Regions from separate parts of the Homo sapiens genome. Here region 1 is linked to region 2. The links come from fine-mapping of genetic effects on gene expression. Tissue or cell type: prefrontal cortex. Region 2 holds a variant in brackets; the other region holds the start of a gene. All regions are shown on one strand. Distances are from middle to middle.

The links. PIP is the estimated chance that this variant, and not a neighbour inherited with it, causes the effect.
Region 1: EMID1 starts here. The variant in region 2 is fine-mapped to the expression of EMID1 in prefrontal cortex (ROSMAP, PIP 0.92).

Annotation. Positions count from the first base shown.
Region 1 is chr22:29,203,749-29,208,748 of GRCh38, reverse strand. EMID1 (EMI domain containing 1) reads right to left here and starts at 2,853. Exons shown (of 15, transcript NM_133455.4): 1 at 2,610-2,853. The coding sequence starts at 2,710. LOC101929638 (a long non-coding RNA gene) reads left to right here and starts at 2,917. Exons shown (of 5, transcript XR_938134.3): 1 at 2,917-3,278; 2 at 3,428-3,589. RefSeq lists silencers at 2,419-2,478, 2,499-2,658, 2,669-2,758.
Region 2 is chr22:29,141,205-29,146,468 of GRCh38, reverse strand. It overlaps KREMEN1 (kringle containing transmembrane protein 1), which reads right to left. Exons shown (of 9, transcript NM_001039570.3): 9 at 1-4,525. The coding sequence ends at 4,357. Among named protein-coding and RNA genes, the nearest start is that of EMID1, 62 kb to the left of the region's middle. RefSeq lists enhancers at 1-684, 4,471-4,970, 4,971-5,264. The variant A/C (reference allele first, on the strand shown) is at 2,259.

The DNA.
Region 1 (5,000 bases), 62 kb before region 2:
TCTTCACAAGGTCTTCCCCTTGGAATAGGGATTATCAGGTTCTGCATTTTACAGAGGGGGAAACAGGCTCCAAGAGAAAGCACCTACCCAGGTCACCCCTGTGGGCATCAGCTGGGATTGCAGCCCCCTAGACAGAGGCTGGGGCAGATCCCCTCCATTTTAGAGCCCTCCATTCTCCCTGATCCTAGGATTTGCCGGAAGGAAGCCGGTGCTGCAGGGGCGAGAGATCTGGGCTGGTGAAGGCTTGAACCCTCAGCTGAAACGCTGAGATGAGTGGTTAAAGGAAGCAGACTCCAGGCTTAGAAGGACCTCAGCGGGGCAGGAAGCAGCCCCAGGGGCAGGGGCAAGCCAAGGCAGCTCTGCATAGCCCTTGGGCACCCTGGTTCCGGGGGTCTCCAAGTGTCACCACCTTCCTGGGGCAAGGGGCGGCCCCCTGGATGCCTTCCCAGGCCACCCCCTCCCCAGGACAAAGCCTCTTTTCTGCGTCTGGTCCCTTGGCTGCCAAGGGGTGCCTGGGGTGCTGGGGTGTGGGTGGCAGGAAGGCTGACAGGGCATGACACCCCCATGCTGTCTCCAGCAACGTGGGGATGGGGCCACAAGTGGAGGTTCTGGTAGCCCACAGACTCCTCAAGCTCCAGGTCCCTACCCCCATGTGACATGATTGATAGCAGGAACCACTGCAGGTGAGGCCCGGTGCTGGTCCTTCCCACGAGGAAAGAAGGAAACTGAGAGCAAAACTGAGACCCATGGCCAGGAAGTGACCCACTTGAGGTCACACATCAAGCCTGTAAGAGCAAGGAATTCTGTCTCCATTCTGTCCAAGGCTGGAGCCCCTAACTCCTAATCATGACTGCAAACCTTTCCTGGTGCCCCCAAGCCGACAACCTCTTTCCCTCTTCCAGCAAGGCTGCTGGAGAGAAAAAGCCACTGGATTTGGAAATCGACTGGTCTGGACTGAGGTGCCACTTGTCCTCTGTAGGCCTCAGCCTCCGTATCTGTACAATGGGTGCAATAGTGTTGCCCACAGGGTTTTTGGGATGCTCAGGCTACTGTGATAGGCTTCTGTCAACACATGGAGTGACAGTCCCCAGTGACCACCAGATACCTGGTTATAGCCATCATCCTGTTCCCACCCAGGAGACCCTGGGAGGTGAGGAGCCCAGGCTGGGAAGCCCTGCCTTGAACTGGCTGCAGGGCGGTCTGGGCCTTAAGCTGTCGCCACCATCATCCTGAGCCTAACAGTGGGATTTCTGAGTTCATAGTCTCTGTCCTCTTAGCATCTGGGATCCTGGCGGCTCACTTCCATGCTCTGGGCAGGTCATGTTCCCTCTCTGAGCCTCATCTTCCTCCTCTATGAAACAGAATCATAAAGAGCATACCTCCAAGCAGCTGGGAGGATTCTGGAGCTGATGAATGCAGGTAACGGAGCCGACTCAGGCTAACTGTTGTCTGCACACAATAGGTGGTGGCTGTAACATCTGCCACACGTCCACCCCTGTCTCAGACAACTGCTCTTCTGGCCTCTGATGCTTCAACCACCTCCGTCCTCCAGCCCTGCCCATGTCAACTGCTCTTGCTAGCCCAGCAGGGGCATGCTGGCCCCTGACCACTGGGAAAGGAGAATTTCTGAAAAGAATTAAAGAATTGAGGCCGTAGGGGGTGGGGGCCGCGCAGGCCTTTGAATGGGATGAAAAGGCCTGGAGAGGCCTGGCTACTCCACATTGTCTGCCTTGGACAACGGCGGCTGGCCTTTAGGAGGGGACCCTCGCTGGGGCTGCAGCCAGGACAGAGGCCAGGACAGGTTCAAACACTGTCATCAAGGATAGAAGGGCAGATTTGCAACCTAGCTCTTCAGTGAATAGCCCATGAGGCTAAAAGATGATGCCAATTCCCTAGGGTCTCAGTTTGCTTAACCGTTGAATGGGGACAGTTTTCCCTACCTCATTCGGTCCTTCAAGGATTGATGAGGACACTATATATAATAATGGGCCCCACCATGTCAGGTTCTGGGAGCTCCTCCGTAAAGGCCAGCAGGGAGGAGGTTCCCCGCCGCTAGGAGAGCAGAAGGAAGACTGTGCTCCCTCTTTTCTCTGTCCAAAATGCCAGGTCCCTGGGGTATCTCCGACACTGACCCACTGGGCTGTGAGACTCCACCCCAGTCCCTCCTCCGAGGGAGATAAATAGCCTGGGTACAAAACAAACAAACAAAAAACAAAACAAAGCAAAAAAACAGGAACAGGGAAAAGGGGAGAGAGGGTCCGAGAAGAGTCGGCTAGGGGGTGTCATAGGCCTTTCCCAAGTGCAGGGGGAGGGGCCCTAGGGACAGGGGAACAGAAGGGCCAGGGCTTCGCCCTCGTTGCGCCCCTTCCCCCTCCTCTCGAGCTCCTGGGTTGAAAGGGAGGGAGTAGGGGAGGCAGCCAGCTCCGACACATGGAGTAGGGGACCCCGCACTCGCGGGAGCCTCAGCCGGACCGCGGGATGGCCGTGTCCCTGCCCTCACCCGGGCTGGGGACTGGATCGCCCTCCAATCCCAGCCCTTCCTGGAGGTGGGGGCGTGTGCGCGCCGGGACCCTCGGCCAGCGGGGTGCAAAGGCGCCGGGAGCTCTTACCTGCGTCCGGAGAACGGAGCTGCCCCGATGCTCCACGCAGCGCCGCCTCCCGGGAGCAGGAGCCCGAGGCAGAGCAGCGCCCAAGCCCGCGGGCCGCCCATGCTGCACCAGGCGCCCTCCGCGCGCGGCCCCTCGCGGTCGCCGCCCCCAGCCTGTCCTCCCCGCCTGCCTGCCCGCGCCGCCAGCCGCCCCGGACGCGCGGAGCCCGGTTTCCAGCTCCGCGGCCGGAGGGCGGGCAGGAGGCGGGCGGGCGGGGGCGGGGGCGCGCGCTCCCGGCCTCGCCCGGCCCCTCTGCGCTGCCCCCCGCCCCCTGCGCCGCCGCTGCCAACCCGGAAGGAGCCCGGAGGGGCCCGGGCGGCCAGGGCGCCCCCGCCAGGAGGCCCGCCAGGTGTCCACCTGAGCCCCACGCCCTGCGCCGCGGGGCCCTTTTGGGGGCGGGGTGCCAGCTCCGAGGTGTCCTCCCACGGGCTGTAGACTGGGAAACTGAGGCCCGGGCCACGGTCCCAGACGCAGCCGGGACCCGAACCCACCTCACCTGAGCGAATGATATCCGGGACTCATCCTTTTTCGACACCTTTGCGGGATCCAGCCCTCCAAGGAAAGCTTCCTGAGCAGTGCGCGCCACGTGTATTGGGCACCTCACCGCGGCCACTTCACATCCTATCTCAGGTGACTCTTCAAGCCACTCTGCTCGAACTGGGCACAATATCCCCATTTTACAGAAGAGAAAACTGAGGCCCAGGCACTCGCAGTCTCCCTAGGAGGAGATCTGGGCTGACCCCATAAGTGCAGAGTCTGTTCTTATTCTCATTTTACAGGTGGAGAAACTAAGCCACAGAAAGGAGCTGTCATTTACCTAAAGCACCGTGGCAGGGGTTTGGCAGAGCCAGGATTTGTACCCAGATCGCCTGACTTCGGAGAGTAACAGCTCTTAACCACAGCACTTCGGTCTATGCCTTGATTTCACCATATGTAACAAGGTAAGAATTGGTGTTGGGTGGTTTCATCTGGGGTACATGGATGGGCTTCTGGAGGAATGGCTCTACATCCCACAAAGGTATATGTAAGCGTAGTGTGTGTGTGCAGGGGTGCATGTGTGTGTCGTATGTGTGTATGATGGATGTGTGTGCATGCTTGATGTGGATTTATGTGCATGTGTGTTATGTGTGTGTCTGTGATAGGAGTGTGTGTTTATAGGGAGAGACCAGAGCTCTCATCAGAGGGGACCCAGACCCCCAATCTCCCAGGGCAGTCTCTAACCCCGCCTTCTGCCTGGATCGATGGGCAGTAGTTAGGCCTGGGCTGGGGAAGCCCTTGCCCAGCTTGGCTACTTCCTGTTATGGCTTGTCCAGACCCACGGTCCCTTCTAGAAACACTCCCCAGAAAGGATCTGCCAGTCACTGGATTGCCCCTCCTGGACTCACCAGGGGCAGGCAGCATAGGCCACCATAGGCAGGCAGGCAGGCAGGACGGGGGATCCATCACCAGTGTGTCCACATAGAGAAAGCTGTTGCCCTGTCCCAAGGGACAGGTAGTGAGAGCTGGGTTCAAACCCTGCCTCTGCTACTTCTGCTCCAGTTAGCTCAGGCAAGTCTTGCCCCTCTCGCAGCCTCAGTGTTTCTTTTGCAGGGAGGACAGTTGTACATTCGTTACAGGAGTGTGGGAAGGATTGAGATATCATGGTAATGGCCTGTCACCCACTCTCCCCTACTTCACATAGTCCCCCAAGGGCTCCCTCTCCCTCCAGCGACATCACCATGGTGCCAATGTTGCCCCCTTGGGGAGCTGTTGCCCTCCTTTTCACGTGAAATTTTGGCACATCTCCTGTGCCATCTCTCTGACCTCCAAGAAATGCAGCTTTGTACCTCTCTGGTTAGCCCTTGTTTTTGACACAGCTAGATCAGTGACTTAACACCCTGGATAATTCGTCACTCCTGAGGAGCCATGCCCCCAAGAGGATGCCAGGCCTGTCTGAAACCCCAATCAAGCGGCCCAGATAAAAACCCATCACCCCAGGGGTGCTTTGAGCTGTTTAGGAAGCTCAAACATGCAGCTGTTTAGGAAGGAGAAGCACTGGATAATGCCTTGGAGGGACTGAGAGGTGTCTAGGGTGTCAGATGGGTGCCACAGAATGAGGAGGCACTACTAGGTCTGTTTGCAACATGTCTGAGATGCTCCTGCGATTAATGGCATCCACATTTCTTAACCAATGCCATCAAACTTGTGGCAGACTCAGGCCGCTGCAGAATTTCCCCAGCAAGAGACTCTCCTGGTAAAAGCTGTTATCAACATTTTCACATCAGAGAGGGGCCTGTCCTTACTGAGGCTGGGATTCCCGGGTCCAGGGTATTTATTTATCACTGTAGACCCGGATAAATAAATATAGATTTA
Region 2 (5,264 bases):
ACCCTTCCTTTCTGAAGCAGATTTCCCTCTGACTTTCCTCCACACCCCACTTCTGCCTCCGTACCCAACTCAGCAAGACGGAAGCCTGTGAGATGTGCCCACCAGGGGTCTGCAGGCAGAGGGTGAAGCCCTGTCACCCCGGAGCCGTCCAGCCTGAGGGGAGACAGCTGTGGCTGGAAGGCTTGAAAAACACCCCACACCAGGGAAGCTAAGCTGAGACCTGGCCAGGAGGTAGAACAGTGAGGAAGGTAAACAAAGACACCAGAGGAAACAATCCAAACTCCCAAGGTAGGAACAAAAGCCGACATCAAACACCACACGGGAGATCTGAAACCTAACGGTGCCAGGTGGTGGGGTGTGGAGCTGCCCGGCTCCGTGGGAGACCTGGCCTGACCTCAGCAGACCAGGGAGGCAGGGTCTCGGAGGCCATCCGCGTATAAGTGCTTGTGAAGAGTAAGCGTGCAGTGCCAGGATGCATCGGGGCTGGGTGATGGCCTGGCTGGGCTGCAGGCAGATCCTGAGCCCGGCCAGGAAGGCTCCTGCCTGGGCTGACAGTGGGGCATGTGGGTGGAGCCGCACCCAGGCACGCCCGTGGGTTCTACCCGAGGGCCAGGACAGCTGAACTTGCTAGTGCTTTGATCTCTGTGGGCTTCTGGCCGATTGGAGTCTTGAGCCAGAGCCCACTCTTCAGAAGTTAGAGCAGCCTGGTTTCCTCGCTCACGCCCAGAGAGGCCTCAAGCCTGTCCTGACGTGGGGGACAGGGCGGGTGAAGTCACTCGGGTTCACTCCTACTCATTCTCTGCTTTGCAAGCAACTGGACAAACGGGGAAGAACAGGGCACCGTGTGCCTCCCGCCTGCCTTCTCAGAAGGGCCAAGGACACTGAGAAACGCTGCTAGAAACTAGGGGCCACAGCTGGCCAAGACACTGTCACCACGGAGAGTGACAAGATCGGCTGGTGAGGGCTCTCCTGTTGGCACAGGTACCAAGAAGGCAGGGCCTGGCGCCAGCGGGGAACAGGGGTGAGGATGGCACGCAGGCCCAGTGCAGCCTCCTCCCACGCTCTGTCACCTCAGGAGGGGCTTTGGCCAGGGTGCTTTCAGAGCTCTGTCCACAGTGGTCCCCGAAGCCCCTCCCCTGCCTCTCCTGCAGTCTTCTGCCATGGGTTCTGACTGACTTTCCCAGGGTTACCCTCTTTTCGCCACCTCCAACCCCCACTTTATCTCATCTAAGGAGTTTCCTAAAAGTTCAAGTGCCACCTCCTCCATGCTCCTGGAAGCCCACGTCATCTCTTCTGGAGCAGTTTCTTTCTCAGGTGTTTACCTAGCCGCAGTGGCCTTCTGTGGGGTGTCGCTGACTTTCTACCTGGTTCTAACTGAGTCCATAGCCAGGCTGCGGCAGGAGCCAGTGCCCACGGAGGCTTAGCCTGGGATGATTTACAGCCCTCCTGCCCGTACGCTGTCCTGAGCCAGATTTGGGTTTCCCGGGGCTGCTCCACGGATCGTAAGTTGATCCTAGAGGCGCTGGGCCATGCCAGGGCGAGGCAGGAAGAGAAGCGCTGGGGCATCCCCAGCACCTCCCAGGCCCTCCGAGGAAGTGCTGCCCCCGCTGCAGGCTGTGACAGCACATTGGCTTGGGCATGGCCTCCCCTGACTGAGATGTGAGGAGGGCAAGGTGGGCATTTGGGCTGCAGGACACCCCAGAGGCCAGTGGTCAGTGTCAGCCCCAGGCAACTGAACAACTGCCCCCTGGCCGGGTGAACTCTTCCTGGGGCCACGTGCCACATTCCCTTTGTGCTGCACATGGATCTATTCACAGCACAGGACCCGTTGGGACGACACACACCTGACACTTATGTTTGAGAGAGATTCCACAAACAGCATGAATAGCTTGGAGGGGAGACTGCACGTGTTGGTATGTTTCCAGCGGTCCTCCTGTGTGACAGGCCTCTTGGAGACAGAGGCCTGCGGACAGCTGCTCTTTCCAGATCAAAGCATGAAGGCTGCACCGAGCAGCTCTGTGCCCTCAGCAGGCCTCCCACGGGGCCTGGGGTGGCAGTCCTGCCCCTGCCTGCCTGTGACACATTGCTCCGTTTCCCTCCTCTGAAGGCCCCTCTGCCTGAAGCTCCAAGCACCTCTCCTGAACTCAGGCTGCCGAGTGCCACCTCTCCCTGCAGACACTTCCTGTGTGGCCCTCTTTCCTCCCAGGGGCGGCAGGTGCAGAGGTGTTTCCAGAACCTCAGTAGGAGCCCCAGCAGGC[A/C]GTGGCTCAGGGCTTGGGGGAGGTAGGCAAAGTGCTGCAAAGAGGAAACGCCAAAGCCAGAGGCGCAACAATCACCCAGGCCCAAGTGCCTTGTGGAGAGGCACGCTCTGACGAGGGCCTAGGCCTGGCCAGCAGAGGCACAGGCTGCTTTTCTCAGCTGCTGTTGACAAAGCCTGATTCCAGATGGCAAGGACTTTTAAATTAGTGATGGCACTTACTCTCCCAACCAGCAGCCACTACAGCTGCAGCACTCAATCTTAGGAGGAGCTCCTTGGAGGAGCTCCAATTCCCAAACCCACCCTCTTCTGGCACCAATCTCTGCAGCCCACCTCCCTATCTAAGGGACAGGGTGGCAAGGGACTGGGGACAAGAGTGCTCTCCTTCCCCACTGAGCCATTCCTAACCCCACTTGGTCCCCACAGGAGGGGCAGAGAGCACGGATGGCCCTTGGAGTGTTTTTTTTTTTTTTGAGACAGAGTCTTGCACTGTCACCCAGGCTGGAGTGCAGTGGCGTGATCTCTGCTCACTGCAAGCTCCGCCTCCCGGGTTCACGCCATTCTCCTGCCTCAGCCTCCCGAGCAGCTGGGACTACAGGCGCCCACCACCACACCCAGCTAATTTTTTGTATTTTTAGTAGAGACGGGGTTTCACCATCTTAGCCAGGATGGTTTCGATCACCTGACCTCGTGATCCACCCGCCTCAGCCTCCCAAAGTGCTGGGATTACAGGCATGAGCCACCGCGCCCGGCCCTTGGGGTGTTTTTTATCTTTTAACACGGGGGACACCAGAAGGAAGGACCACAGGCCCCATGTCTCATATAGTGCTGCCTAAGGGCAAAAACACAAGATTGATACTCTCCACTCTGAACTGAGAGTTAGCTGAGCCAATCATGGAGAGACTGAGGCCTGGCTCAGGTTCCATAGGACCATGAGCTGCTCAGTGGCAAGGCTGATAAAGCCAATCCTGAGTACTTACTGAGTGCCCATAAAAGCTTGCAGGAGAATTTATTGCATGAGTAAATGAATGGATTTTTTTTGTTTATTTGTGTTTTGTTTTTTTGAGACAGAGTCTCACTCTTGTCACCCAGGCTGGAGTGCAGTGGTGCGATCTCGGCTCACTGCAATCTCAGCCTCCTGGGTTCAAGCTGTTCTTCTGTCTCAGCCTTCTGAGTAGCTGGGATTACAGGCGCCTGCCACCACGCCTGACTAATTTTTATATTTTTAGTAGAGACGGGGTTTCACCATGTTGGCCAGGCTGGTCTCGAACTCCTGACCTCAGGTGATCTGCCCGCCTCAGCCTCCCACAGTGCTGGGATTACAGGCATGAGCCATCGCGCCCAGCTGAATGGATGTTTTATATGACCAAAGCTCTTAAAGCTTTCCCTGCAGCTCCATGAGCTATGGAAAGAAGAATCTAGAAAGAAGCCCATGTGTAAGGTATCAGGTTTGATATAAATGGGGGTCACTAGATCTTATTCTCAGACCCTCCCAGGCTGAAGGAGGCCCACCCTAGTCCAGCATCTGGAGAGCAAAGCTGCCGGGGCAGCACAGACACTGCCCTCTTTACACCTCGCTAATGTCCAGGAGTCCGCACTTGTATGGGACCAACTCCCAAGAGTACCTGAGAGTTCTCCCTGTCTGGCCCTGTTCCAAGACATAAAGATCAGGAGAAACTGATTTGTGTGTGGACAAAAATAGAGAAGCAAGAAAAATTCAATGTAACTAAAGCTACCCACCACCTGACAGCCATCTAGAATGTACCTGAGCCCTGTGCCAGCCATGACCACCTCTGTCATCTCAGCCTCACTGTCCTGACACCCCCACTGCTAGCTAGATCAGAGAGAGATGCAGAGAGGGCCGGGCCCCAGGGCTTTGAGTCTCTCTCCTAAGTGCAATCGATGAAGCAGGAGGAATCCAGGCTCTGCCTGCCCTGGCAGCAGGGTGCCTCTTCCTAGTCTGTAGGAGGAGGGTTTCCCCGAAGAGGCCGAGGCAGAGGGAGAGGAGGGGAAGAGTCTGTCAGAGAAGAACCACAGGAGAGGTTGACCACGGCAGCCTTGAGCTCAAAGAGGGACCTCAAGTCCTAGGCACAGTGGGGTTTTTAGTCACTCACAAGGGGATTGCGGTCATCTTGTTGACTCTGACCCTTGAGTTTCTTCTTAAAGATGGAAATTGAAGTGGAAGGCTTGTAAAAAATGCTCCAGATTTCCCCCGAAGTCCCTGGTTGATGACAATCCCTAAGGTCCCCTGAAGCAGGAACACGATGGGATCTGTCAAGCAGATAAATATTTTTTCCAATAGATTAGAACAACGCAAACAACCTACCATCTCACGAGATACTGTATCTATGAAATGGGGTGGGGCAAGGTCTTGGGAAGGACCTCACAGCCACCTCTAAAGATCTGAAGGACTAGCGTGCAACTGAAATGTGGCCTGTGGGCAGCAGGGGCTGAGGCCAAGTGCAGCAGGGCAGCGTCTGCATCAGAATAACAAAGAACTTTCTAACTAGCAGAATTCTTCAAATCTGGAAAAGCCCAGCCTGAGAGATTATGGATTTTCAAATTCTTTTATTTTAAATAAAAGAACTGTCTTCAAATGCCATTTACCTGGAAGCCCACCTAGCTAAAACAAGATAAACACAAAACTTCTCTGCTTCAAGCAGAGACCCGTCTAGCCTCCGGTGCTGGCCCGGACTCTGTTCAGCCCCCACGGCTGCCTGGCAGGGAAGCTGCAGCCGATGTCAGAGGAGAGTTAGGCATGCACTTTAGGGCCTCAGCCATGCTATCAGATGCTGGACGCTATAGGAAGCATTGGGCTCTCTTGCTGCCACAGGGGATGTGGTCAGGACTGAGCCTGAGAGGCTTCCCCAGAGCATGTGAATTGTGACTTTAAAACACACATACACACACACACAGACACACACACACAGACACAGACACACACACACACACATGCACATGCAGACACACACACACACACACACACACGAGGACATTATTTCCACTAAAA